4 linked regions of the Homo sapiens genome follow. The protein of the gene in region 4 purifies or fractionates together with the protein of the main gene of each other region. This does not show direct contact. Each region holds a gene or a part of one and is shown on either strand. Other genes may lie near its edges.

The links.
Region 1: the proteins of HOMER1 (region 4) and SPTBN4 purify together in Homo sapiens (affinity purification with mass spectrometry; 3 studies listed by BioGRID and IntAct, with this or other methods). This does not show direct contact.
Region 2: the proteins of HOMER1 (region 4) and DBN1 purify together in Homo sapiens (co-immunoprecipitation; 4 studies listed by BioGRID and IntAct, with this or other methods). This does not show direct contact.
Region 3: the proteins of HOMER1 (region 4) and FRYL purify together in Homo sapiens (affinity purification with mass spectrometry; 3 studies listed by BioGRID and IntAct, with this or other methods). This does not show direct contact.

Annotation. Positions count from the first base shown.
Region 1 is NC_000019.10:40,567,980-40,575,001, forward strand, and holds part of SPTBN4 (spectrin beta chain, non-erythrocytic 4), read left to right. Parts: coding exon 1-303; intron 304-1,677; coding exon 1,678-1,747; intron 1,748-2,456; coding exon 2,457-2,749; intron 2,750-4,039; coding exon 4,040-4,213; intron 4,214-4,358; coding exon 4,359-4,401; intron 4,402-7,022.
Region 2 is NC_000005.10:177,463,627-177,470,648, forward strand, and holds part of DBN1 (drebrin), read right to left. Parts: intron 5,274-7,022; coding exon 5,218-5,273; intron 4,595-5,217; coding exon 4,482-4,594; intron 4,192-4,481; coding exon 4,117-4,191; coding exon of another isoform or gene 4,002-4,116; coding exon 3,855-4,001; intron 3,707-3,854; coding exon 3,629-3,706; intron 3,437-3,628; coding exon 3,285-3,436; intron 3,210-3,284; coding exon 3,146-3,209; intron 1-3,145. UniProt on the Homo sapiens protein: Actin cytoskeleton-organizing protein that plays a role in the formation of cell projections. Required for actin polymerization at immunological synapses (IS) and for the recruitment of the chemokine receptor CXCR4 to IS.
Region 3 is NC_000004.12:48,777,258-48,785,259, forward strand, and holds the start of FRYL (protein furry homolog-like), read right to left. Parts: upstream 3,023-8,002; 5' UTR 2,821-3,022; intron 1-2,820. UniProt on the Homo sapiens protein: Plays a key role in maintaining the integrity of polarized cell extensions during morphogenesis, regulates the actin cytoskeleton and plays a key role in patterning sensory neuron dendritic fields by promoting avoidance between homologous dendrites as well as by limiting dendritic branching.
Region 4 is NC_000005.10:79,504,115-79,511,136, forward strand, and holds part of HOMER1 (homer protein homolog 1), read right to left. Parts: intron 6,904-7,022; exon of another isoform or gene 6,273-6,903; intron 1-6,272. UniProt on the Homo sapiens protein: Postsynaptic density scaffolding protein. Binds and cross-links cytoplasmic regions of GRM1, GRM5, ITPR1, DNM3, RYR1, RYR2, SHANK1 and SHANK3.

The sequences.
Region 1 (7,022 bases), on a different chromosome or scaffold from region 4:
CGCGACCCCCGCGGCGGCGGAGCAGGTGCGGCCACGACCGGAGCGCCAGGAGTCAGCTGATCGCGCGGAGGAGCTGCCCAGGAGGCGGCGGCCTGAGCGGCAAGAGTCAGTCGATCAATCCGAGGAGGCTGCGCGGAGGCGGCGGCCGGAGCGGCAGGAGTCAGCGGAGCACGAGGCGGCACACAGCCTTACCCTGGGCCGCTATGAGCAGATGGAGCGGCGGCGCGAGCGGCGTGAGCGGCGCTTGGAGCGGCAGGAGTCCAGCGAACAGGAGATGCCCATCAGAGGAGACCTGGTCAAGGGGTGAGGTGCCCGCCTTATGACCAGAAAGTGAGGGGAGGGGAAAGCGGAGAGCTCCTAGAACCCCTCAGGCCCAGTGAAAGGGCTTCAGGGCTCAGAACTTCCCAAAGAAGGAGATATCGCCGCGGTACCCATTTTGCAGAGGTGTAAACTGAAGCTGCAAGATAATCGATGTGCCCATTGTTACACAGAAAGGGGAGCCCTTCCTGTTGAAAGAAAAGGCAGACTGCCTTTCTCCAGACGTAGGTTCTCGGCCCCTGGGTTGTGACTCCTGCATCAAGTCTCCCGGGTGCCCCGAGGCAGGGATTTTGTCCTCTCTGTGCCTCAGTTTGCCCACTGGGCTAATGGTGGAACCCTCACCTCCTTGATTGGAGAGGAGACCCTTTATCACAATTCTCTCAGCAGCCTTATGAAGTGGGGGCTGTTGTCTTCTCCATTGTATGACTAGGGCAACTGAGGCACAAAAAGGGCAAGTCACTCAGCTTAAACGAACCAGGACTTTCAGAATCCAGAGTTGGCCAGTGTGTGTTGTGCAGATCTGTCCAGTCAGCTGAGTGTGTCTCCAGAAAGAGGCCTTTGGTCAGGAGACAATGACTTCTTGATTCTTTTTAAATTGCACATTTCATGAACATTTGCTGAGTGCCCACTCTGCCTGGCATGTGCTGAGTCGAGCGGTGACTGAACCAGTCCCATCCCTGACTTTAGAGACTCACAGTCCATTGGGAAAAACAGGCTTGTCATCAATGATGACCGAGAATTATCTGGGCTGGAATGGGGGCGATTGGGGGACTGGAGAGTCAGGGGTGGGTGGAGAAAGGCAACGTTTGCAAGTTGTTCTTTGTGCTGCTTAAAATTCAAAGGGGCATCTGGGCGCGGTGGCTCACGCCTGTAATCTCAGCACTTTGGGAGGTTGAGGCGGGCAGATCACTTGAGGTCAGAAGTTCGAGACCAACCTGGCCAATATAGCAAAACCCTGTCTCTACTAAAAATGCAAAAATTAGCCGGCATGGTGGCGCACGCCTGTAGTACCAGCTACTTGGGAGGCTGAGGCAGGGGAATCGCTTCAACACAGGAGGCAGAGGTTGCAGTGAGCCGAGATCATGCACCACTACACTCCAGCCTGGGCAACAGAGAAAGACTCCGTCTCAAAAAAAAAAAAAAAAAAATTCAAAGGGGCGAGAGGTTTGGTCTTCCATTCAGCAGACACGTCCCAAACACCTGTGGTACCTAAGGCGAGCATCTGAGAGAAACAGCTGCAGAAGTGGGCAGGGGCCTGGCACTTCCAGCTAAGAAGTGGAGGCTCCTCTGCCCAGCCAGACAGGTCCATGGGAGAAGGAACCCTGGTTTCACTGGGTCTTTCTGTCCCCCATCCCCCAGGAAGGCCACCCTGGCTGACATTGTGGAACAGCTGCAGGAGAAAGAGGCAGGCCCAGGGCTGCCTGCTGGGGTAAGTTGAGCCTCGGATGGGTGGGGATAGGAGGACCCCTTTTTCAGAGCAGGAGGCAGGATCTCAGAAACAGCCAGTGCCTAGCCCTGGCAGGACCCATTCCCTACCTGGACCCTGCAGAGACAGCATGGACTCTCAGGGTCCCCAGAATCTGAAAATGTCCCCCTTAGAAAGACGGGGCACCTACCTAAGAGACCCCTACTGCCCCTCCACACACACACACACACACACACACACACACACACACAGACACACACACACAGACACACACACACAGACACACAGACACAGATACACACACAGACACACACACACAGACTCTTCCCACATCTGTCCTGGACTCCGTATTTCTTCAGCTCAGTGGGGTCCCAAATTTCTTCATAGCCTCATACACACACACACAGAAGGAAGCCCCAGGTTTCTCCTGCAGACAGTGGGGACACGCCCTGCTTGCACCCCCACCTCCAGAGATCTGGCTGCCTCTTTCCACCACCGAGAGAGATTCCAAACCAATGAGTCCTAACAGACTCACTCCCAAGACCCATGGGGCCCTAAGAATTGGGCCTCCAACCCTGAGGTCCTCCCATACTCGCCTCCGAGACAAATGGCCCTGTAGACAGATGGGACCCCAGACCCATGACTCCCCCAAACAGATGACCCCCACACCCTCTCCATGGACAGCACCCCTCTTCCCCCTCCCTTCACACAGCCGTCGCTGCCTCAGCCACGCGAGCTTCCCCCAGGTCGCCTGCCCAACGGGCTTGAGCTGCCCGAGCGGACACCTCGGCCGGACCGGCCCCGGGCGCGGGACCGGCCCAAGCCGCGACGGCGGCCGCGGCCCAGAGAGGGTGGTGAGGGCGGGGGAAGCCGGCGCTCGCGCTCCGCCCCGGCCCAGGGCGGCTCCGCCCCCGCGCCTCCGCCACCGCCCACTCACACAGTGCAGCACGAGGGCTTCCTACTGCGCAAGCGCGAGCTCGACGCTAACCGCAAGTCGTCCAACCGGTGAGCGTGTGGGCGGGGCTTTGGAAGGCGGGTCTCAGGCTCAGGGTGACCATTGCGTGGAGCGGTGGGACTGAGGAGGGGGTGTGGCTCAACTTCAGGCCCTCCAGCAGGTGGCGGTAGTAGGTGGGGCCAGAGCTGGGGGGTGGTGGTGGCTTAAATCAAGAAAGCCAACCAATGAGCAGGAGGGGGTGTGGTTTAACGTCAGGCCCTCCAACCCGTGGGGGTAGTAGGTGGGGCCAGATGAGGGGTGGGGCTCAACTTTGATGATTCCAACCAATGAACAGGAAGGGGCAGGACCTAAGGTTAGTGCATCTAATGGATGATGGGTAGAGCTTAGGTGGGAACAGAAGGAAAATGTTCTGAAAGTGAGTAAATTGGAACCTAACCTCTTAGCAACCAACCCAGGAGTTGATCAGCTAAATAGCAAAGAGGGAGGCATCTAGTTGAGAAGGTTTCAATGGCTTGTCGTGGAGCTTGGAGAGGTCACTCAACCAATGAGTGGGGTGGGTCTACCCTTGAAGTTTCAAATTGGGGGAGGGTCCGAAAACGGGCAGAGCCCAAACTAATGAGGGTAGGGGTTGGGAAGGGGGAGTCATCTCTTACAGGTTTCCAAATGAGGGTCTAGCCATGATGTGCCTGCTCTTGGGGAGTCCAGCTCCTGCTTGTCCACCCTCTTTTTGTCCAACTGAGAGGCAGAATCTGGGGACAAGTGGAGCCAAAAAGGGGTATCACCGGCCAGTAATGGAGTGAGTCCCAAGATATGAAGTGGGCAGGACAGATTCAGATTTTGCTAGTGGAATCTGTAGGTGGTCTTTCTTCCTCGTACCTAATGCCAAGGTAGGAATAAACAAGGGCACCTAGTATGTTTTGCTTTGGGAGGGATTCCTCCAGGATCGAGGCTTTGGATGACTGGAGAGACAGGAATTCTTTATTCCAGACAGTAGACCAATAGACTTTCCTTGAGAAAGCTCCATGAGTGGGGAGGATTGAGTGGAGCAAAGGCTTATGGAGGAGACAGCTTAAGACTTACCTTCAGGAAATTCAGTATGGGAGGGGATAAGGAAGGGAAATCTCAGCCTGGGCAAAGGCTTGATACTGAGAGACTTAAATGCTCCCCTCAGGGCAGCAACAGCCTTAAGGAAGAGCATTTTAGGTCCAACTAGGGCGCAACTAGGGCGCAAAGGTCCAGAGGTAGGAAGGCTCAGACATATTCAGACCTTGAGGATGTTAATGAAGAGTTATTAGGCAGAGTGCTGCGGCTCTGCCTTGAGCCCCATCTTGTCGCTCCAGGTCGTGGGTGAGCCTGTACTGTGTGCTTAGTAAGGGGGAACTGGGCTTCTACAAGGACTCCAAGGGCCCGGCATCCGGGAGCACACACGGTGGGGAACCGCTGCTCAGCCTGCACAAGGCCACCAGCGAGGTGGCTAGTGACTACAAGAAAAAGAAGCATGTCTTCAAGCTCCAGTGAGCCCCCCAATGGGCAGGAGGGAGGGATCCAAGGCTCAGCTTCAACTCCCAGTGGGACCCTGGCTTCCCTGGGGGACACTTGGTGGGCAGGTGGGCTGGGCCCCTTCCCCAGATCTCTGAAGTCCTGTGTCCCTTCCTGCAGGACCCAGGATGGCAGTGAGTTTTTGCTCCAGGCAAAAGATGAGGTGAGATCTGGTCCTTTCCTCCCTCTGTGTGGACCTCAGTAATGACCTGGCTGTCTGGCTCCTGACCCAGAGTGATGGGGCTGTGAGAAGGGACACTCACAGGCCAGAGTTATCAGGGCTGTAATGGGAAAGCCCACAGGCACTGAGAGCCCAAAGGAGGTTCCTAACCCAGTGGGGAGTGGGAAGGGCTTCAGGGAGGGCTGCCTGCAGATCCTGATGACAAAGTCCAACATCTTTGCCGTGGTCACTCAGGTGAGACTGGAATGGAGGGAGTTCGCTTTAAAAAGGGGTGATTTGGCCAGGCGCGGTGGCTCACGCTTGTAATCCCAGTACTTTGGGAGGCCAAGACGGGCAGATCACCTGAGGTCAGGAGTTTGAGACCAGCCTGGCCAACATGGTGAAACCCCGTCTCTACTAAAAAATACAAAAATTAACTGGGCATGGTGGCAGGTGCCTTAATCCCAGCTACTTGGGAGGCAGAGGCAGGAGAATCGTTTGAACCTGGAAGGCGGAGGTTGCAGTGAGCTGAGATGGAGCCATTGCACTCAAGCCTGGGGGACAACAGCGAGACTTCCTTCGAAAATAAAATAAAAATAAAAAGGGTGATTCAGAGGGACAGTGGGGGTCTAAAAAAAGGAGTGATTCAGGTTGGGCACCATGGCTCAGGCCTGTAATCCCAGCACTTTGGGAGGCCAAGGCAGGAGACTGCTTGAGCCCAGGACTTCAAGATCAGCCTGGGCAACACGGAAAGATCCCATCTCTATGGGTAATAATAATAATAAATTAGCCGGGAGTGGTGGCACATGCCTGTGGTCCCAGCTACTCAGGAGGCCGAGTGGAAGGATCACCTGAACCAGGGAGGTCAAGGCTACAATGAGCTGTGATTGTACTATGGCACTCCAGGCTGGGTGACAGAGTGAGATTCTGTCTCAAAAACAAGAGGGGGTGGGTGATCTAGGTAGAGGGAACTGCAAGTGCAGAGGACCAGAGGTGCAGTATTGCAAAGGGTTAACTGCTGGAGGGCAGAGTTCATGGAAGAAGGTCCCAGAAAGGTTCCCAGGAGATAGGTGTCTCAGGACAGGATGGGCCATTTGGAGGAGATTGGATTTTTTACCTAAGGGCACTGGAGAGCTAGGGGGGATTACAGTGATGTGTAAAAAAGATTCCTGGCTGGGCGCAGTGGCTTACGCCTGTAATCCCAGCACTTCGGGAGGCCGAGGCGGGTGGATCACCTGAGGTCAGGAGTTTGAGGCCAGCCTGACCAACATGGAGAAACCCCATCTCTTATGGTGCATGCCTGTAATCCCAGCTACTCGGGAGGCTGAGGCAGGAGGATTGCTTGAACCCGGAAGGCAGAGGTTGCAGTGAGCTGAGACAGCGCCATTGCACTCCAGCCTGGGTAACAAGAGCAAAACTCCATCTCAAAAACAAAATAAACAGGCCGGGCATGGTGGCTCACGCCTGTAATCCCAGCATTTTGGGAGGCCGAGGCGGGCAGATCACAAGGTCAGGAGATCGAGACCATCCTGGCTGACACGGTGAAACCCCGTCTCTACTAAAAATACAAAAAAATTAGCTGGGCATGGTGGCGGGCGCCTGTAGTCCCAGCTACTTGGGAGGCTGAGGCAGAAGAATGGCTTGAACCCGGGAGGTGGAGCTTGCAGTGAGCTGAGATTGCGCCACTGCACTCCAGCCTGAGCGACAGAGCGAGACTCCATCTCAAAACAAAACAAACAAACAAAACAAAACAAAACAAAACAAAACAAAAAAAGATTCCTTTGGCTACCTGGGTGGGTAGCCCAGGCCGCGGCCAGGGCAGGGACCCAAGTGGGAGAGCGCATGGCTGGGCCACACAGGCCTGTGGGGAGAGGAGGAAGAGGAGTCTGAGAGAGGCAAGCATAAAGGTGGTTTGAAGAGATGTTGAGAGTAATAACTAACACTTGTTATCTCATTCAATCTTCACAAGATGCAATGAAGAAGTGGGCTTTTTTTTTTTTTGAGACAGAGTTTCTCTCTTGTCACCCAGGCTGGAGTGCCATGGCGCAATCTCAGCTCACTGCAACCTCCACTTCCCGGGTTCAAGCGACTCTCCTGCCTCAGCTACCTGGGTGACTGGGATTACAGGCTTGCGCCACCATGCCCGGCTAATTTATGTATTTTTAGTAGAGACGGGGTTTCTCCATGTTGGTCAGGCTGGTCTCAAACTCCTGACCTCAGGTGATCCACCCGCCTCAGCCTCCCAAAGTGCTGGGATTACAGGCATGAGCCACCACACCCGGCCAGAAGTAGGCCTTTACCCACTACATGCCTTCTTTTACTTATCTGCACAATGAAGATTAAAAATAGTTTCTTGGCCTGGCATGGTGCCTCACACCTGTAATTCCAGCACTTTGGGAGGCTGAGGTGGGCAGATCATTTGAGGTCAGAAGTTCAAGACCAGTGTGGCCAACGTGGCGAAACCCCATCTCTACTAAAAATACAAAAAGTAGCCAGGCATGGTGGCACGTGCCTGTAGTCCCAGACACTCAGGAGACTGAGGCACAAGAATCTCTTGAACCTGGGAGATGGAGGTTGCAGTGAGCTGACATCGAGCCATTGCACTCCAGCCTGGGGGACAGAGC
Region 2 (7,022 bases), about 98 Mb from region 4:
ATTGAAAGGGTACCACACTGACCTGCTAGAATGTCCACTGTCACTCTCACGTGAACTATACTTGAAGGGCCAGATGGGACTATAAAATAATGGTAAGCTCCTTCAGACTTTACCTGAAATGTTGATAACTGGTGAAAATAAATCAGCTCAGGGGGTTCACAACACTATTCTGTCTACCTGCATGTGTGTATGTTTGAAATGTTAGCAAAAAAATAAACTTTATCAGGGCTGGGTGCAGTGCACTTTGGGAGGCCGAGGTGGGAGGATCACCTGAGGTCAGGAGTTTGAGACCAGCCTGGCCAACATGGTGAAACCCTGTCTCTACTAAAAATACAAACATTAGCCGGGCATGGAGCCGTGCACCTGTAATCCCAGCTACTTGGGAGGCTGAGGCAGGAGAATCGCTTGAACCCAGGAGGCAGAGGTTGCAGTGAGCTGAGATGGCGCCATTGCACTCTAGCCTGGGGGACAAGAGTGAGACTTCATCTTAAAAAAGATAAATAAATAAAAATAAATAAATAAATAAATAAACTTTATCAGGCAGGGTGCGGTGGCTCACGCCTGTAATTCCAGGACTTTGGGAGGCCGAGACAGGTGGATCACGAGGTCAGGAGTTCGAGACCAGCCTGACCAACACGGTGAAACCCTGTCTCTACTAAAAATACAAAAATTAGCTGGGCATGGTGGTGCACGCCTGTAATCCCAGCTACTCAGGAGGCTGAGGCAAGAGAATCGCTTGAACCCAGGAGGCAGAGGTTGCAGTGAGCTGAGATTGTGCCATTGCACTCCAGCCTGGGCGACAGAGCAAGACTCTGTCTCAAAAAAATAAAAATAAATAAATAAATAAACTTGGCTGGGTGAGGTGGCTCACACCTGTAATTCCAGCACTTTGGGAGGCCGAGGAGGGCAGATCATGAGGTTAAGAGATCGAGACCATCCTGGCCAACATGGTGAAACCCCATCTCTACTAAAAAGACAATAAATAAATAAATAAATAAATAAATAAATAAATAAATAAATAATAAACTTTATCTGCTGGGTGCGGTGGCTCATGCCTGTAATCCCGGCACTTTGTGAGGCCGGCGGGTGGATCACCTGAGGTCAGGAGTTCAAGATCAGCTTGGCCAACATGGTGAAACCCCATCTCTACTAAAAATACAAAAATTAGCCAGGCGTGGTGGTGGGCGCCTGTAATCCCAGCTACTTGGGAGGCTGAGGCAGGAAAATCACTTAAACCTGGGAGGCAGGCCGGGTGCAGTGGCTCACGCCTGTAATCCCAGCACTTTGGGTGGCTGAGGTGGGCAGATCATGAGGTCAGGAGATCGAGACCACCCTGGCTAACATGGTGAAACCCCGTCTCTACTAAAAATACAAAAAATTAGCCGGACGTGGTGGCGGGCACCTGTAGTCCCAGCTACTTGGAGGCTGAGGCAGGAGAATGGTGTGAACCTGGGAGGCGGAGCTGGCAGTGAGCTGAGATGGCGCCACTGCACTCCGGCCTGGGCGACAGAGCGAGATTCCGTCTCAAAAAAATTTAAAAAATAAAAAAATTTTAAAAAACCTCACTCTGAAAGGATAAATAAAATGTGGTATATCCATACAATGGAATATGATTCAGCCTTCAAAAAGAAGGAAATTCTGATGCATGCTACAACATGGATGAATCTTAAGGACATCATGCTAAGTGAAATAAGCCACACGCAAAAGGACAAACACCGTGCGATTCCACTGATAGGCAGTCTCCAGAGTAGTCAACTTCATAGAGACAGAAAGTGGAATGGTCGTTGCCAGGAGCTGGCGAGTGGGGAAGGGCAGAATTTGTGTTTAATGGATGGTGGTGGTGGTTATCCTACAATGTGAATGAATTTAATGCCGCTTAATGAAATGCAGATTTTAAAATGACTGAAATGGTACATTTTATGTATTTTGCCACAGTTACATACATGTGGCCAGGCGCGGTGGCTCACGTCTATAATCCCAGCACTTTGGGAGGCCGAGGCGGGCAGATCAACCGAGGTCAGGAGTTCAAGACCATCCTGGCCAACATGGTGAAACCCAGTCTCTACAAAAACACAAAAATTAGCTAGGCATGATGGTGTGCGCCTGTAATCCCAGCTACTCAGGAGGCTGAGGCGGGAGAATCGCTTGAACCTGGGAGATGGAGGTTGCAGTGAGCCAAGATCACGCCATTGCATTCTACCCTGGGCGACAGAGTGAGACTCCATCTCAAAAAAAAAAAAAAAAAATACATGAATCAACTTATGAAAAAAAGATCTTACCCAGCTCGTTCTCCACCATGTTCTTTATGTGGCAGGTGGCAGGTGTGTGTTGAATGAATGACTGAGGATGGAGCTTACCAGCCACACATCATCCCCACCCCATCCAAGGGCAGATGTGACTGGAGTGACTTAATGCTGCTGCCTGCAGGACTGTCTTGCCTCCTCTCTCTCAGCCTCCTGTGGGTGACTCCGGAGCCCGTTTGAGTCCCCACAGCCATGCATCTGCCCATTACAGTCCCAATCCAGATGAGTATCAACCCACCTCCCTTCCTGAACTGAGCCATGCTCAGTCCTGAATGACATTAGCTATTTCCAAAATACTAAATTCAAAGCATGGAGATGTGACTCTGCTGTGATTCTCAGGGACCAATCCACAGGACCTACGGGCCATTCCCAATGTGTGGAGATTCAGACAGTACCCCTGGAACAAAGGGGCTGCTCCCAGGGAGATGCTGCTCCCAAGGAGATGGTACACACTGCCTGCAGATGCTCAGCACTGGCCCAGGCTCACCCATGCCGCCTGCCTCACTCCTGTGGCCCCTCAGAGTGCAGAACAGTGTCTAATCGCCGAGAAACCCCAGGGCAGGGGAGGGGGAGCCTGGTCAGTGAGGGTCTGGGTCTAGATGGAGTTTCTCTTCCAATCTAGAGCACAAGCTTCTCCAAAGTAGTCTTTTTCCACGGCCAGAGGCCAGAGCCCCACGTGATGAGGTGCCAGGCCTCATGCTCCATGGCACCCTGTGCCCATGCAGCTCCCCAGAACAGCCACCACTGTCCCTGAGCCACTGATCTCCCCACAAGGCCCAGGAACACAGGGACCATTCTCACTTCCCTGACCCAGAGACCGGGAGCCTTGGCAAAGAACTTACAAAGATAGACTGCTCCTTCAACCGCCTCTTGGCCTCTTCCGCTTCTAAAGTCTGCTGTTTCCTCCTGGAACGATAAGCAGCCAGCACCCGTCAGGGTGCGCCCGGGGGCCCCTGGAGCGCTCCGGGCGGGCAGGCTCACCTGTGCTCCTCGATCTGCTGCTCCCGCTCCCGGTAGCGCCGCTCGCGCTCCTCTTGCTCCTGCCGCTCCTGCTCCATCCGCTCCTGCTCGAACCTGAGCCTCTCATCCAGGGCCTTCTTCCGCTCCTCCTCCTTCCGCAGCTCTTCTTCCTTCTGCAAGCCCCGGTGCGAACAAGGGTAGGCCCCGAGCCTAGGCGCCTGGACCCTGCCCCTCCAGCCCCTCCCTAACCCAGCGCTGGGGGCGGGGCACGTGGCATGGGCCATGCCACTGCAGTGAGGGACTCAGACCTGCCCCATGGGGTCCATGAGGGGTGGCTCAGCCAGGCCGGGCTCAGGGTTCCATACCTTGGCCTGCTCCCAGAACTGCTCTCGGTTAATCCGCTTCATTTCCACAGCTGCATCCGTCTTCTGGTAGGTGGTGCCCTGCAGTGTCGAAGGACCCAGCATAAGCAGGCTGAATGCCCCAGGAACCCCCGACACCTAAAGGGTGAGAGCTAAGAGGGACCGGGCAGGCCAGACTCGGGCACCAGGCCACGCAGGCAGAGCCCACGGGTGCCAAACACACACTAACCACGGGCTCTGCGTTCTCATCCTCTCGCAGCCGCAGTCGGTGCAGCACAGGGCTGGAGAGTCGCGCCAGCCCGTTAGAGAGCCGCTGCCCGATGGCACCCGCGTCTATGTCTTCCACGCTGCTGGCGTTCACGATCACGTCGACACCCTTCCGCAAGAAGACGGCAGTGCTCAGGCGGCACCATCCTCCCGCCATCCCCACCCCAGCACGCAGACCCTGGTGGCTGTCCCCACCCCCAAGAGCGCTGGCCCCTGACACGCACCTGGAAGAACTCCGCCACCTTAGCCACGTGGCTGGCACAAGCGCACTTGCGGGCATCAGGCACATCTTCGCCCACCTGCAAAGTACCCAGCAAAGAGGGGGTCAGGAAAGGACAAGGGGGGCCCTACACGATAGGGTGCATCTTCCCCGGGGTGGGAAGAGGGTGGGCTTCCCTCTCCACGGGTGTCAGAGGGCCGACGGGGAGGGCGACTGCTCTGGGCCTTCAGTTCCCTTCCCCAGCCCCGGCCGCATACCCAGTTGATGAGCAGCTCTGGGCCCTCAGCCCCCTTCCCCAGCCCCGGCCGCATACCCAGTTGATGAGCAGCTCTGGGCCCTCAGCCCCCTTCCCCAGCCCCGGCCGCATACCCAGTTGATGAGCACGTATTTTGGCAGAGCAGCTTGGGAGTCCTTGACACTGCAGAAGCCGTACATCACCTTCTGGTTCTCAAAGTGTCCCGAAAGCTCCTGCAAGCCCCCTTCTAGGGTAATCAGGAGAGTGTCAGGTCTCTCTGCCTCCTAAACCCTTCCCAAAAAGAGCCTGGAACTCAAAGCAAAGACTCCTCCAGGCCTCCACAGGCACCCCCAGGGGTCTTCTGGCCTCTGGGGTCTGTGGGTCCCAGTTTTGTGTTGGTATGTGTGGGGGTGGTGGCGCACAGGGATGTAGCTTTGCCTGTGACTCCTGCAGGGCCTGATTTGGGGGTAGGACTGAGGAAGTGTTTGTTCTTCACACTCAGGTCTCATTCTTCACACATCATCATGTCTCACCAGGTGCCAGTGCCCAGAGGCACAATCAAGCCTTCTGGCTCTGGGGAAGGCGGTGAATAGGGCCCTTCCCCCAAAGTGTCCCAGCTGTGTGGCTTCAGATAAGTCACTTTCCCTGTTGGAGGCTCAGCCTCAGAAGTCCAACATTCAACAAGGCTCTGAGATTCCTCCCCACCCTGGGGACACAGGGATGACTGGAGGAAGGACACCCGCCAGATCCAGACAAGTGTGGGGCTGCAGGGTGCAGGCAGGGAGGTGGCCTACAGCCAGGTGGGTGGGGAAGAAAACAACCAGGAGGAGGGGGTGGAGAAGGCGGCGAGGGAATGGCTGGAATTCCTACCTCCTGATGCTGCAAGCTTGAGGTCATCGGAGCCATCTTCATATGTGTACAGAGCCCTGGGGAGAGGGAGGGGTGGCTGTCAAACTGTCAGGGCCCAGGCCGCCAATTCTGGGTGGGGACGGCTCTGGGGAGGGAGAGGGACATGGAGTGGGTAGGACAGGAACGGGGAGGGCTCCTGCTGTAGCCATGACAACAGGGCCAGGCATCGGTTCAGGCGGGAGCCCAGCAGGGTACTGCTGGAGGCCTGGGTCAGGGGGGCGCAGGCAGTGAGGGGAGAAATTGCTGGCTGGTCGAGCTCAGTGCGCAGCATCCCGGCCCTGGCCCTGGCAGCCTACAACCCAGTGGAGCGGGTGTGTGATGGAGATTCCAAGGCGACGGTTCCTTGGTTACCGTTCCCTGGCTACCAGGATCCTCATCCCCCATTGGCTAGTGCCAGGAACTTACCTGGCACGTGCCTTGGTCCCCGCTGCCCCTCCCCCGGGGAGGGAGGAGGAGAAGAGAGAACCTGGTGCTCCCAACAGCTCTGGGCATCCCCCAGTAACCATGGCAACCCTGCAATTGGCACACGACTGGCCCACCCCAACTGCATTCTCCTTGAACACAAAGGACCCTGGGGACCCGCCCTCAGCCTCAATCTCCGCCTCTCTGAAATGGGGATGAGGTCACTGCAGTCACTCTCGCCCAGACTCTGGCCCCGGGGTGGCCAAGCCTGAGCTCCAGGCCTTCCAGCCCCTAGGCTGCCTCAGTCCTGGCTGAGGCTTCCTGAGACTGCTGGCCTTTCCTTCTGTCTGAGCTCTAACAGAAAGCTGACCTGGTGGCCTTCCTCCTTCCTCCTCCTCCCTAGCTTTGTGTGCCCTGGCTCCTTTTGATAGGCTGCGGTGACAGAGCAACCATTGCACAGAAGGGAAGGCAGAGATGCCTCCTCCATCACCCCATGCAGGCCCAGGCTGAGGACCCTCTGGGAGGGAGGAGAGCCGGGGCCTAGGAGGAAGGGCCTTGTCCCTGAAGTTTGAAAGGGCTCTCAACCCCTTCTCCAAACTCCTATTCCCCAGGTGCCAAGGCAGGAGGCTGGGGCTGTGAGGAGGGGAGGCAGAAAGGGAGGGCAAGGGAGAAGAGAAAGAGGAGGGGAGAAGCAGAGGGAGAAACCAGGAGAGGAGGAAGAAGAGAAAGGACAGAAGTGAAGGGACAAAGGAAATGAAGGCGGGAGGGATGGAGGGGACGTCTCAGGAGGTTGTGGCCAGGGCCAAATGGCCTCAGCCCCTCCCCTTCCTGGATTCCCGGCTTCCTACCTCCAGGAAGGAACACAGGTGGGCTGTGGGGCTGGGAGCTCCTGGTCCAACTGTTACCCCCAGCCCCAGCCTGGCCCTGACAGATGCTTCCAGCACAGCTGGCCCACCACCTGTCCTGCTGCCCTAACCCACCACGGGAACAAAGGGCCCTGGGAGAAGCAGGCTCTGTCTCTCTCCATGCACTGATGAGAAACTAATGCAGAGCCCAGGGACCCTAGTTCCTAGAGACTGCTGTAGACATCAAGCCTCCCTCTGAGAGGACCTGTCTTGGCCTGCCTAGGCTCCCCGGGGTGCCTTCCATCCTCAGCCCCTGGCTCCCCACCTCCGGCCACCTCTTCCTGCTCCAGCCGCAGCTCTCCCCCAGCAGAAACCATACCCCAGTTCAAACCCTCCAGCCTGCCTTTCCATTGGACCACCCTGTCCACACCACACACTTGGGACACACTGGACGGCTCCCTGACCCAAGCAGGGTTCTGGACAGGGCTCACCCTGAAGCCTCTGCCTATGTAGTTCTCT
Region 3 (8,002 bases), on a different chromosome or scaffold from region 4:
AAACAAATCACAATTTTGTACACAGAACAAAGAACCTCTAGATTGACATATCTTCCCCCAACAGTAAGCCAATTGCTGGCCTTTAGTATAAAATGTTCAGAAAGGTGTTTATTTAAAAAATTAAATAACTCAAGCGGCCTTTACAGGACATTATCTTTTTCTGTCACAAAGACCTAAAATAAGACATTTATTGGGTACTAAAAAGGTCCGAGGTGATACAGTGAATCTGCACAGAAATGGAGGATAATTCTGGCTCCCAAGGATCTCAAGAAACAGTTCATAACTCAAGAAATGTGTGCATATAAAACAATGTGTTTAAAACAATGTAGAAAGCACAAAAGAGGAAAAAGTCTTTTTCAGGAAATACAGTCTAGATATTTCAAAGATAATTATTTCTGAATGTTTTATTCATATGTTCTCTTCTAAAAGTTGAGAAATTCTTTTATTGTTTAAATAAATTGGTAAGTAAACAAAGACAGACATTTAAAAACTTGGTTTAACCGTCTCCTTTTATTATGAGATGGGAAGGAAGATTATGCCTAGCTGCTTGCCTGACATCCTTATCACAGAAATGGATCAAAGAAAAAAACAAAAAAGAAGAAATATTAGGTGAAACAATGCCAGATACCATCAAGATTACTACAAACGGCCAAGCACGGTGGCTCAGTCTGTAATCCCAGCACTTTGAGAGGCCAAAGCAGAAGGATCGCTTGAGGCCAGGAGTTGGAGACCAGCCGTCTATACGAAAAATTAAAAAGTGAGACCACCATCTCTACAAAAAATAAAAATTTTAGCTAGGCGCAGTCGTGCCCACCTGTAGTCCCGGCTACTACGGAGCCTGGGGTGGGAGGATCACTTGAACCCAAAGAATTTGTTTTTGTGTGTCTTTATTTCCTAAATTCTGTGAGAAGAATAGATTTTTATTTCAAACATTATCTGATATTGGCTTCCAATTTCCCAAGTAGTTTCTCTATTGTTACTGCTGAGCCTGTGAATTTACAATGTTCCACACCACTCCGAAGTTACTAGACAATAAATTAATCGATGAACGCTTTAAAAAGTTGGACTGCTTTAATAAAAAAAAAAAAAACTGGGTCACATGTTCCAACAGAATTCCCTCTTTTAGAGAACTAATTTTACAAAATAATTCAGAGTGGAAGACAAGACACGATGGAATGCTATTTTTGATAATGAGTAGCAGAAAAAAGACCAGAGAATAACACACCCACTGCTACTTTGTTTATACGGTTGTAACTTGCACATGCAAGTACTCTACATAAAGTATTGCACAAGAAGAAACTGTCAAAAATGAATGCTTATGAAAACATTCTTCACTAAGGCCTCTAACAAGGAATGTGCTATCTCTGATTTCCTCGGCAAGTATTGACAGATTAAGCAGAGTGATAATGCTCAAGATGAAAAGACGTCTTATACTAGTTTTTATCAATAGTAAAAGCTGTTGGTACTAATTATAATGGCTGTAAATTCAGTAGCAGAATCAACTTTACAGACGATATCTCCTAGGCAGCACAGCATTTTATAAAACCAACTTTACTTCCATCAAAACCCTTTTTCCCCCCCAATCCGACAGACCCTGGCAACCTGTCTTGCTGTGTCTTTTTTCCCCTACCCTTCCAAAAGAACCCCAGCCAGTGAATCGAAGTAATATTTTCCGCAGTTCAAAGGTAAGGGCAAACTCAGCTCTACTAAGAACTCTTGCTCCTCACCAGCACACACCCTAACCCCCACCCCCTTTTTTTTCTTTTCAAATCTTGGCCTAGGAAAGATTAATGCTCCCATATCATTGCAAATCCACAAAAATGCGATTTTAGGTGGCGAGGAACTAAACTAGGATGGCAGGAAAGACCGGCAGCAATAAATCATTTCGCCCTAGAAACCAGCCTCTCCAGAACGCAGGAAACCAGGCTGTGCCCAAAGAACCTGCCGCCCGGAAGCAACAACTTCCATCAAACGGCAAATAAAAGTTGCAAAGAAGAGCTCAGCGCCCAGGCACCCTGCCCGGTGCCGAGGCTGAGAGCAGCAGGCAATCTACAGGCCGAGTCAGCTCGCGGGCGGTGGCCGCGGTGTCCGCAGGGCTGGCTCCGGCTCCGGAAGACTCCGGGTCCCGGGGTACGCCAACGGCCCGGGGCTGCGCGGGCACAGCGCCCGCACCCCTCCCCAGGACCGCGAGCAGTGGGCGGAGAGACCAGAGCAAGGGAAAAGGCGGACAATGCCCGGCTGGGCTGGCGCGCTCCGCCGGTCCCCGCCAGCCCTGCCCGCCGGGGCCCGCCAGCCGCCGCGCTAAGTTTGCTCCTCAGCCCTCCCTTCCCAGCCGAGGCGGCGGAGCCGTGGTCGCCGGTCTTCCTCCACCTCTGCCACCGCCTTCCTTCCCGCGGGGCGGCTCCCGCGAGTCGGTGGCGAGGCGGCGCGCGACCAGAGCAGGACGCGCGAGAAGGCGGCGCGCGAGGGGTACCCGGGCGCGCGCGAGAAGAGCCAGGCACTGGAGGGGAAGGGGACGTGCGGGAGAGACGGGCGCGCGGCGCTGCCGGCGGAACCGCCGGAGCTCGGGCGGGCTTTCGGTTGAGGCTGGGGTTGCGCCGCGGTTTGGTGTCCGTTACGAGCGCCGGCCCGGGCCGCGCCGCGCCGCTTGCCAGCCATCCTGGACCGCCTTCCCTCGGCGCCCACCAGGAAGGACAGCTGGCGAGGGCCGACGACCTCGTCTCCCGCCCAGGCTGGGCTGCCGGCGGCGGGCATCCCGGCGCCTGCCCCGGGGCTGGAAGAGAAAGTAAAATGAAGCGCCTTTCCCCAGTCAACACCTACCCGTTCCCAGTCCTAGTACAGCTGCCTCGCTCCTCCAGCGCCGCCGGTCCCCGCCCTCGGGCCCCTGGCTCCGTTCTCTTGACAATGGCGCGTCCCCTTTAAGGAATAATCCGATCGGAACCGATCTGTGGTTAAACCTCCCTCCGACTCTGATTTTAACCGGATTTCTCTCTCGCTCTCTCCCAGAGCCCGACGGGCGCCCGGCTGTGCTGCGAGGTCTTCCCACCCCTTCCCTACCCCGCCCGCCCCCTGGCCTTCCTGATTGGCGAGAAACACTACAACAGGAACAGCAGTCCTCGCCCTCCACTGGCCTGGCCAGCCGCCGCTCAAAGTTGCTCCTACCTTCTCCCCGCCCCTTTTCCCGGGTTGGTCTTCCCTCTAATCATTCTCTGCCCTCGCCTCTAACGTTGCTTTGGAGCCCTGGCAGTCAAGGCTCACCCTCCCGCCTCCGGAAAGCGAACTTTATTTTTATTGGTGAAAGGACATCTTCCTGTACACTTGATTGGGCAAGGAAAGAGCTAGTCTGCACGCTCCCTACCATTATTACTCTCTCTTTACGGGCTTGAGAAACACAGCCGCAAAGTCCTCTCCGCTTTGCCTTCTAGGAGCGACTTTACCTTTAAATGTTGTTAGGGGTCGAGGACAAACTCATATCCTATATTGAGGAAAGCTGGAAAGGGACAAGAGAAAAATTCAAAATTTTCTCCCGATCAGTAATGTATCCAGAGCTGGCGCCCGGATCCTGCGGAACCTTATCCAATGATCCAGAGAATGGAATGGTTAGAATTGAGTTAGAATACCTGAAAGTCCAGTGCTAATTCCTCCTGAGATTTACTCAACAAGTTTCATCCACTGTCCGCCCTACTCATACCATTGATTGCACTGGCATTTTGCCACCCGGAAGAGCTTTAATCAAGTTATCTGCAAACCTGGAGGTTTCCTTGCTTGTCTCGCAATTGTTCATTTAGAAAATCATTTCCATTACAAGTTCCGTTTAAGTCACGTCCTCTGTGACGTTCCCGCGTTTCCACGAGACCTGTTACTTTTTTGAAAAAATTAAGTAGATGGTACCCTTATGCCATCCTCAAAGTGTAGGACTTCGTTCCCCCTTGCTAGAACTGTAGGAAAAACACCCCAGGTCACTTGAACAACTGAGATGCCTCTCAGGAGAAAACGAGTCTGTCTAAGGGAAAGAGGGAATCTGATACCAGAAGCTTGACCATGGAGCAGAACCTCACGCATTGAAAAGAGAAGAAATTATGGGGAAGCCTAGTGCGGGGTCTGCTTTAGAGTTTCCCCAGTTTCCCACTGGAGCTGTAAGAACTAAAAGGTTTATTTCCACTAAAATTGAGTACAGGTACAGCTTCGGTACCCATCTAAGAATGTTAGGGGAAAATGGTTATGTGTTCTCTCCCTCTTTGCCGATGAACCTTGAAGACTGTGTACCCCGGGGGCTTTAGTACATTTGCAGTGATACCCCAGTATAATCTAATGGTGCCAAGGAAGTGTCAGTGCTCAGCAGTACCCTAGAAAAGGGGCTTGATGATGACAGAGAAGGGTAAGTAAACATCAGTAGTTGGTAGTTCATAGGACTTTTCCCCAAATACAGGTGAAAAATTTCATGAGGATTCCCGAAAATATGAAAGAGCAGGAAACAAAAGGGAACGTTGCAGGAAGGTGGTTTAGGTATCACTAGTGGGGGCAAGAGACGATGAACTATCTGGGTTGCATTTATATGGCCTTCACAGATACACACATCCTCCCTATTAAGTCCCTATAACTAAATCCCTATGCTTAGCCTATTCTGATTTTACTGTATAATAAAACTGCAGCCAAGCTAAACTAATACTTCTGGTTTACTCACTTACCACTCTCAAACTCTGAGACTGCTTCTGGGTTCTAATATTCTACATTAGAATATAAGAAGAAGAAGATACTATGTACTGATATCTAGTATGATCTTCTGGAGATAAAGATATCCAGTGTTTCAGGCATGTACACACCTGCAGCTTTTGTTCAAGGTCTAAGTGATGTTTTCAGGTTCTTTCTAAAACACCTGCCCTATGATATCCAGCTTGTTACTGCCCTCTTTTGCTGCACTAGCAGACTGGGCATATAAACTAGAGAAGGCAGTCTACAGTAACCTCTAGATTCTCTTACTTGCATTGAACCAACTATGCTGAGATTATCACCTTTCAAGTATAATTTGTGTTATTCTTTTCTCTAAATATTTCATATTTGCCCACAATAGGATCATTTATCACTTTTTAGCCCACACATGCAACTTCCTGGTACTAATACTCCTACTGGCATTTCACAGCAAAGAAGAATTTTAAAAATCTACAAACCTGGAGCTTACAACGTAGAGGTTATTCTTAAGAATGTTCAGTGTTGATGAACACAGCCCCAGTTCTAACCCTGGAGAATTTTACAAGTTGTACTTTCTCATTCAGAGAGACTTTATCTCTCTACCTTAGTTTCTCATTCTAAGCCCAATCCCCACTCTTTAAAAAAAGAATATTTCTCGGCTGGGTGCAGTGGCTCACGCCTGTAATCCCAGCACTTTGGGAGGCCAAGGCAGGTGGATGACTTGAGGCCAGGAGTTCAAGACCAGCCTGGGCAACATGGCGAAACCCCATCTCTGCAAAAAATACAAAAATTAGCTGGTGGGAATGGTCACAGGCCTGTGATCCCAGCTACTGGGGAGGCTGAGGCAGGAGAATCACTTGAACCCGAAAGGCGAAGGTTGCAGTGAGCCAAGATTGCACCACTGTACTCCAGCCTGGGCGACAGAGTCTCACTCTGTCACACACACACACACACACACACACACACACACACACACCCTTCTCCAATGTGCTAATGTAAATAAAGCTTTTTAAATTATTGTATATAGATGTTTGTTAAAGTCTTTTAAATGGTGAAATACCTCCAGGCACCATGGCTCACACCGTGCCAGTAATCTCAGCACTTTGTGAGGCCGAGGCAGGCAGATCACCTCAGGTCAGGAGTTCAAGACCAGCCTGGCCAACATGGTGAAACCTCGTCTTTACTAAAAATACAAAAATTAGCCGGGCGTGGTGGCGCATGCCTGTAATTCCAGCTACTCGGGAGGCTGAGGCAGGAGAATGGCTTGAACTCGGGAGGCGGAGGTTGCAGTGAGCTGAGATCGCACCACTGCACTCCAGCCTGGATGACATAGCAAGACTCCGTGTCAAAAATAAAAAATACAAAAAAAGTGAAATATGTTATGATCACTATTCTCCCTGTTTATATGCAAATGTACCCCTCAAAGAGGTTCCATAGTTTAACCAGTAATTATTTTTCCTCTGAAAAATTATGTTACCATTCCTATTGGAAATTCTTTCCAGTTCACCACACACTTATATAGCGACTATTATGTGTTAAGAATAGTGAGAAAATGGGGGCCAAGTGCAGTGGCTCACACCTGTATTCCCAGCACTGGGAGGCCGAGGCAGGTAAATCACTTGAGCTCAGGAGTTCGAGACCAGGCTGACCAACATGGTGAAACCCCGTCTCTACTAAAAATACAAAATTAGCTGGGCGGGGTGGCGCGTGCCTGTAATCCCAGCTACTCAGGAGGCTGAGGCAGGAGAATCGCTTGAACCTGGAAGGCGGAGGTGCGGTGAGCTGAGATGTTGCCATTGCACTCCAGCCTATGCAACAAGAGTGAAACTCCGTCTAAAAAAAAAAAAGAATAGGGAGAAAATGATGAATATGTATCCATTCTCCAGAGAGTATGTCATGAATCTCCACCTATAAGGGGCACAGTTTTTACCCTTTATTTCCTTCAAAGCTCTTGCGTGGAGACTATGTATTCACCAGAGATTTTTCTATAGTAAAATTTTTAAAAATCCAGAGCATGGTGTGATGGTGCACACCTGTAATCTCAGCTAGTGGGGAGGCTGAGATGGGAAGATTGCTTTGAGCCCAGAAGTTCAAGGCCAGCCTGGGCAACATAGCAAGATCCTGTCTTTTTTTTTTTTTTTTTTCAAAAAAAAAATCCAACTAATGGAAGCTGTCAACCAAAATCATTTCCCCTGTCCCATTAATATTGATGAGAATAAGTTAAAAGAAAATAAGTCACAGTAGTTTGATTTAATGAAAAAATTCCAGGAAATAGTTCCACAGTCTCCTAGGTCTCCCAGAGGAGGTCCAAGTCCTTCACTCTCTAAAGTTAAATGTGTTGCTTTGTAAAATAAGAACTGATATTCATTGAGTATGTCACTGAAAGGTCTGCAATTATCAGTAAAAAATTCAATTGTGTTCAGTATATTTCACCTACTGGGTAGAATGTGGATATTAATACATTTTTAGAAAGCTTTCCAATTATCTCTTGCTTAAAACCCTTTAGAGATTTCTCTAGGCACATTCTGAATATAAACACCGCAGCAAAACGTACAAGTCTCTTTATAATCTGACTATAGGCTTCTTCTCAAATTTCTTCCCTGACCACTCCCTCGTTTGACACTGGAAGTGTCTGCTCTCTCAATATCAACTATCATGTTCTTTCAAGCTTCAATGCCATTCCCTTTGTGTAGAATAGCTTTCCCCTCTTTGCTCATCTGAAGGACACTTCAATCCATCCATCAAACTGATGGCCCAATAGAAGCATTGCCCTCTTTATGCAGTCTTCTCTAGTTGCACTCCCTTCCTTGACTTAATTATTCTTTGTGCTACTTTTCTACTACATATATACTATTTTGTTATAGGTATCACTTTGAATACAGAACTTAAATGTTTCTTTTCCTGTCTCTTGTACTAGTCTGGTTTGTTCTCACAGAGCAAAGCCAGGATTATGTATCATCGCATGGGCATCATTTAGTATGATGACTGGCATAAGTGAGGCTTTCAGTACAGCATGTCAAATTGAGCTGAATGAGCACAGCTGAAACCAAAAAGTTAACCTACAATGTGAAAATCTAATTAACCACAAGACCATTCTAGGAGCATTCTAATTACTTGATATTTTATTGCAAATCTATCTTATCAATTAGTAAAAGATCACTGGTTCTCAGACTTTTTTATTTCATGAACTGGTAAAATTTCCAAGGAATTTTTAGGAACTGACATAAGCTTATCAACTTTTTAATTTTTCCGTGTAAGGTACAAAAATAAATATAAATAAAACTTCTATCTATTCTCATTATTTCATAAAATA
Region 4 (7,022 bases):
CACTTGGGTAAGGAAAACAGCAGCCTGCGAGATCTAGAATTTTTTTTTTTAAATCAACAGAATCTCAAGAAAGACGAGTTTAAGAGTGACTTGGGAGTAGTCCCACTGAGCTTAATGTATACAGAACCCTGGCAATACTCAGTAAACAAGAGTAGGAGGAATCCTCAATCTGTAAACATCCTGGGAGCTGGCAGAGTGATTAAGCAAAGCACACAAATTTTAATGTTAAAAGCCATGAGACAGTGATTCATAACAGAGTAAGAAAGAAAACAGCACTGTTTTACAAAAGAATAAGCAAAAAAAAAAAAAAGGGCACAGAAAGGTAAAGGGATAGGCTAAGCAACTTAAATATTATAATAGGTTCAAAATATTTGTCCCATATACATTTAGGAATGTACAGACTTATCTTCCAGGAAGACTGACTGATAGAAATTCCTAATATGAGTATTTTGAGGTCTTTGATAGTCATGTCCTAAAGATCATTACTAAGAGCCAATGAGGGAAGCTAGAAAGTAACTGGGCAGAAAATTCCAACTCACACAAAGAAAGTCTTGTTCAGAACAACTCTTATAAATACTTAAATAAAACAGAAGAAAGACAATAACTACTTAAGATTGAGATATACGTAAATATAAAAGAATCCAAAAATTTACTTAGAAAAATTATCAGAAAAATAATTGGTATATCCAACTATCGGCCTAATTGCTAGAAATCAGGATTTTCTATTTATGAGCACTAATTCCCCCAAATCCTTTCAACTAATATTGCACATATGTACTGCACTATGAACTTGTGGGTTAGGAAGCACAGCGTATAATACCCAAAGAGATATGTATCAGAGCTATGTCTCTCAGTAGACTTCTATTAAGACTCCCCAACTAGGCTGGGCACAGTAGCTCATGCCCATAATCCCAGCACTTTGAAAGGCCAGGGTGGGTGGAGCACTTGAGGTCAGGACCAACATGATGAAACCCCATCTCTACCAAAAATACAAAAATTAGCCAGGTGTGGTGGTGCACCTGTAGTCCCAACTACTCCGGAGGCTGAGGCAGGAGAATCATCTGAGCCTGGGACATGGAGGTTGCAGTGAGCTGAGATGGTGCCACTTCACTCCAGCCTGGGTGACACAGCAAGACTCTGTTTCAAAAAAGACTCCCCAACTAGACAATGAGAAATTAGGAACAAACCATTCTATGGAAAGGGGGGGAATCATGGACATTCTCCTCTACAGGCCTCTGGACTCTGAGGCATGTGACCACATGGATCCAGACATGCCAATAGACATGACATAATAAACATGACTTTCAATGATCTTGTAAAGTAATGAAATTGTGTTCCCTAAGCACAGTTTTTTGTTTGTATTTAATGTCTACCTAACTCTTGCTTGGTAATTTTACAGAAAGCCCTCAATTCTTACAACTTTTGTGCCTTGAGGACATGGTGCCAACACTTCTCAAAAGATAACATTGAAACTCTTCTTGTTTTATGAAAGAACATTAAAATAAGATGTTCGTAAAGCCAAGCTAATTTTTAAAGCTAATATTAATATTAGGTGTTAAGAGATAAAGGTGATTTTTTAAAAGGTAGAGAAAATGAAAAGGTAAGTGTACTATGAAGATAAAACATTGATTAGATTACTGGTTTTGGGGGGTTTTATAAACAATTTTATTTTCTGATACAAGACAGAAAACAATGACTTTTTGCCTTCCTTTAGTAGTCTACCTTAATAGAAAAAAACATAAATAAGGGTAAATAAGATTCAGTTATTAACTAAGTCAAATGTTAGTTCTATGTATAAAATTATTTTAGCTACGCAAGAGCCATACTGGCTTCACAATCCATTTTTGGGCGGACAAAACCTCACTGAAAGAATAGTAAAAAAGATGACCCTATAAAATTAATTCTATTATCTGAAATGTTTAGCAGACAAAAAAAATTAAATTAATTCTAAATTGTACTTACCAGAGAAGTGAACAAATTTTTAAAAACTTTTATTTATTTATTTATTTATTTTTTTGAGATGGAGTTTCCCTCTGGTTGCCCAGGCTCAAGTGCAATGGGGCAATCTCGGCTCACTGCAACCTCCGCCTCACAGGTTCAAGCGATAAAAACTTTCAAAAACAAGATTTTAAAAAATCCAAGTAGAAGAAAAAGGCAAAGCAAAAAAGATTATATGTGTTGATAATTTCCCTCAAAAATACTGCTTAAAACAAACAGCATTGATTCTTATCAGTTTCATCTTTTTTTCCTTTCTCAGACATTTCATGAAGGAGCACAGAAATGACAAATGTGTTACACTCAGGACAGACGGAAAAAGGAGTATCAAAAGGTATGAAATGCTAAAATTAAGAACATAAGTTCATCAATAAAGTTGACTCTTTTAACAGAGAGTCATTATGGATGTCCTAATTTTATAGACTATGGAGAGGCGTGCTGTAAAAATTAAGATTAAAATACATGATTTTGGCCAGGCGTGATGGCTCACAGCAAGGCAGACGGATCACTTGAGTTCAGGAGTTCAAGACGAGCCTGGGCAACATGATGAAACCCCATGCCTACAAAAAGTACAAAAATTAGCCTGCCATGGTGGTGTGAGCCTATAGTCCCAGCTACTCGGGAGTCTAAAGTAGGAGGATTGCTTGAGTCTGAGAGGTCAAGGCTGCAGTAAGCCATGATGGCACCACTGCACTCCAGCATGGGCCACTGCACTGTCTCAAAAACAAAACCAAACAAACAAAAAAATATATATATATATGATTTTATTCACATACTGAAGACCATTGAATGATTAGCTTTTAAAAAGTTTTACCTACTCTTGGCAGGGCGCGGTGGCTCATGCCTGTAATCCCAGCACTTTGGGAGGCCGAGGCAGGCAGATCACGAGGTCAGGAGTTCGAAACCAGCCTGGCCAATACGGTGAAACCCCGTCTCTACTAAAAAATGCAAAAATTAGCCAGGTGTGGTGGCGCGCACCAGTAGTCCCAGCTACCTGGGAGGCTGAGGCAGGAGAAATGCTGGAACCCGGGAGGCGGAGGTTGCAGTGAGCCAAGATCGCGCCACTGCACTCCAGCCTGGGTGACAGAGTGAGGCTCTATCTCAAAAAAAAAAAAAAAAAAAAAAACCAAAACAAAAAAAAAACAGTTTTACCTACTCTTGCAATACTCATTCAGTAAGATAGATGTGAAAATTTTATCTCAATTCTTCTAGATGGTAGATGGGCTAAAATCTAAATAAATATTCCTTATCACATGTAGATTCTTTTGAAATGAACATATTTAACAGACCTGAAACTTTGCAATGCCTCAAAATCACTCAACTTTTCAAAAACAAACAGAAATATTAGCCACGGGTCATAAGGCATTACAAATATGCAACACAAAAAAACTGCACATTTCATTCCACGAGATACGACCTGAGATATAAATCTATGTAAAATGTTTTATAGTCATTTAAAAACTACATCAGAAAAAAATTATATCAGAAAACATTAAGCACTCGGCACTCATTTTCCCTACTCTTCTGTCCAGTTAGTCATATTAATCTGAAATAACAATCCAGTAACTAAAAATAAATACTTCAACTAAACACTAAAGACTGAAAAAAAAAAAAATCACATGGCAGTAGAGAGGTTAGACCTTTTGGGATATAACCACCTTTTCTTCTGAGATGTTTAATCACTCAAAACTATAAACTATGAATAAGGACAGTTTCTTCTGTCAACCCCTTAACTCCCAAATTCACTATTTTATGACCCATAGTTAGTGACTCTGCTAAGAACATACCATGCTCTTTGCTACATTCTTACCTCTCCAATGAAATGTCCTAATTCTGAAAAAGCCCCGTTCAGCCAACTACACATCTCTCAGTCACCATCCCTCCCCTCCCCACTTCGGAACCTTCCAGGGCCTGCCCAACTGTCCACTTCCTCTACCCAGCCAGAGTTCATTGTTCTGGCTTGGTGTTTCCACAGGATACAAGACACAAAACCAAATTGTAAATGATTTTTAAAATTGCTTTCTTATTCTACTTCCCTGATCATGTTCTTACTCTGCTTAAAACCCTTTAGTAATCTTCACACAGAAGAGAAGTGCTTTTCAAATTACCAGTTGCTAACACAGCGTCATTAAATAAATTGAGTGGGTCACCATCATCAGTCTATCTTAAAAATAAAATAGAACGGAACAGAATAGAAACTACCAGAGTGTACCATACAAAGCAAGGGTATTATGTAGTGACATTTTATCATTTATATACAAGCATATTGGGTTGCAATGTAAAGATGCTTATCTTTCCAACGGGTCATAGCCAAAAAAACCTCTAAACACACTAAACTACAGGATAATCCAATCTTTCATTTGATCTACATGGTTCTCCAACCCAGTCCCTGCATAATAAGGCTCTAGACCTATCTCTTGCTACACCAAAGGGAGCTAGCTCAAGCAAACAAGCTTGTCATGCCAAACTCCTTTGCAGTTCCTCGTTTTAGTGGTGTCAATCACTGTTCTCTCTGCCTTGAATGCCCTCTTATTTGTCTAAGAGGCTCACTTGTACTCATCTTTCAGTATTTAACAACTATCACCTCCTCTACAAAGCCTTTTTATCCTTCCCTCAGCAGCTAATGCCCCCCCAACACACACTTTGTGTCTCCATAATGCCCTACATTATAGCTCCTACAAAATTTCATTGCACATTTTAATTTTAGGCTTGACTGTCTGCCCAACTTCCAAAGTATAAACTCACTAAGGGAAGGAGCACATTGTATTGGCCTTCCTATCAGCAGCACTGAGGTAAGTACACGCACTATAACAAAGGTTCAAAGTTGGTAAAATGAACAAATGACGAATTAAGGACTTGCATCTAAGTTGTCTATTGTCAGATATGATAGGGTGGTTATCTTTGCAATAAAACCCATTTATAGTGCTGGATCAAGATTTTCACATTTTTGCTACAACCCCTAGAGAGCAGAACCCTGCAGTTTGAGGCAGAAGGAGGTGTCAGCTTCCCATCTTTCAGCAAAGAGACTCAGTTTGGGCTGCAATGTAGCAGCACTCATTTCCATGCTTCTGGAAGTTATTTGGGGAAAGAGGGGAAGGAAGGACTCCAGAAGTTCCCATAGGCAGGTGAGATAAATCAGAAACAGCATTAACAGATTCCATTAGCAGGGAGAGCCCCATTTTATGTATAAGTAGCTCTTAATAAGGGAAGGGAGGGAAAGAATTCTTTACCATTGCTGATGGCACTAGGTTGCCAAAATGAGCTAAGTAAAAACAAAGGGTTTCATGAAATAAGTGGTTGAAGTTACTTGATTTCTGTTGCCTACTGTGATAGTTCTGAAATAGCTACTGACTCACTGCTGTCATTATGAGATACTATTTGGAGGTGGGGGTGGGGGTCATACCTAACAGGGGCTCCTCACTGAGGCTTCAAAACTTTTCAGAGACTTCATTTTACATACATGAATGCCTTAATTTTTAGGGGATCTGATACACCTATTTTACAAACCCATACTTTAGTTGCCTTCACTGCAATTAACAGTTCATGCAACATCCAAGATACTTTGACAGACTTTGCCAACTGTCAAGTTTCAGCTGTTCTTCTCCATTTCCAAAAAGTTCATAAACTACTATTAGGGGAGCCATAATTTTTTTCTGCCCAATCACTGATTTTATTAAAAATAATTCCTTTGCTTAGACTGCCCCTAGACTTGCAATAATTATCTACAATTAAGACGAAGATAAATCCTTATTATAACCTAACATTAGTTTAAAAAAAGAAGGTTGTAATATGTGAAACACTTTACCCACAGTATTAAATTTTAGATATCTATTACAGTAAGGTAATTATGGATTGCCAAGGTAAAGCTTTAAAAGCCATTTAAAGCCCTGTTTCCTTTTGCTTGAAATAGGTCCAGGCAGCTATGCTAATTCCACAAACATTTATTAGGCATAAATACGCATAAAGTGTGGAAACGTCAGCAAATGCCTTTGCTGTATGCTCTTCTACTTCCATCTACCCTTCCTCTCTCTACTCAAGTCACTATCAATGAGAAAGGGTCATAGCCCCAAATACAGGCTTTCCAAAAAAAAAAAAATAGCACCACAAAATGCTCGCTCCTTTTTCTCCTCAGTCCATATATAGAACTTTATTAACTAAAGGGCAGATACATTCATTTATAAACAAATTAATTATGCTAAGTGTCTAAATGCATGTTATGTGTGGTGCTAACTTTCCCACTTTAAACAACAGCCCCCTTAGTATTAAATTCATCCTGTCTCTTCAGATTCTAGGCGCTTCAGGAGCCGCGCCTTAAGGTGCAGACATGGCCAAGTCCAAGAACCACACCACACACAACCAGTCCCAAAAATGGCACAGAAATGGTATCAAGAAACCCGAAGCACAAAGATACGAATCTCTTAAGGGGGTGGACCCCAAGTTCCTGAGGAACATGCAGTTTGCCAAGAAACACAACAAGAAGGGCCTAAAGAAGATGCAGGCTAACAGTGCCAAGGCCATGAGTGCACATGCCAAGGCTATCAAGGCCCTCCTAAAGCCCAAGGAGGTTAAGCCCAAGATCCCAAAGGGTGTCAGCCGCAAGCTCAACTTGCCTACACTGTCCACCCCAAGCTTGGGAAGCATGCTCGTGCCCGCATTGCCAAGGGGCTCAGGGTGTGCTGGCCAAAGGCCAAGGACAAGGATCAAACCAAGGCCCAGGCTGCAGCTCCAGCTTCAGTTCCAGCTCAGGCTCCCAAAGGTGCCCAGGCCCCTACAGAGGCTTCAGAGTAGATATCTCTATCTGCCAACGTGAGGACAGGACTGGTGCGACCCCCCGCCAGGCTGCCATCTGCATGGGGCTGTGGGGCTGGGGTCCTCCTGTGCTATTTGTACAAAGAAACCTCAGGCAGGGAAAAAAAAATTCATCCTAAGCTTCCCTTGGTAAAATGACAGGCATTCATGCAGCTTAAAGGTTCTGGAAAACTGATTTTCTTCCATGATGCTACTACTCCACAGTCTAGACAAAATGC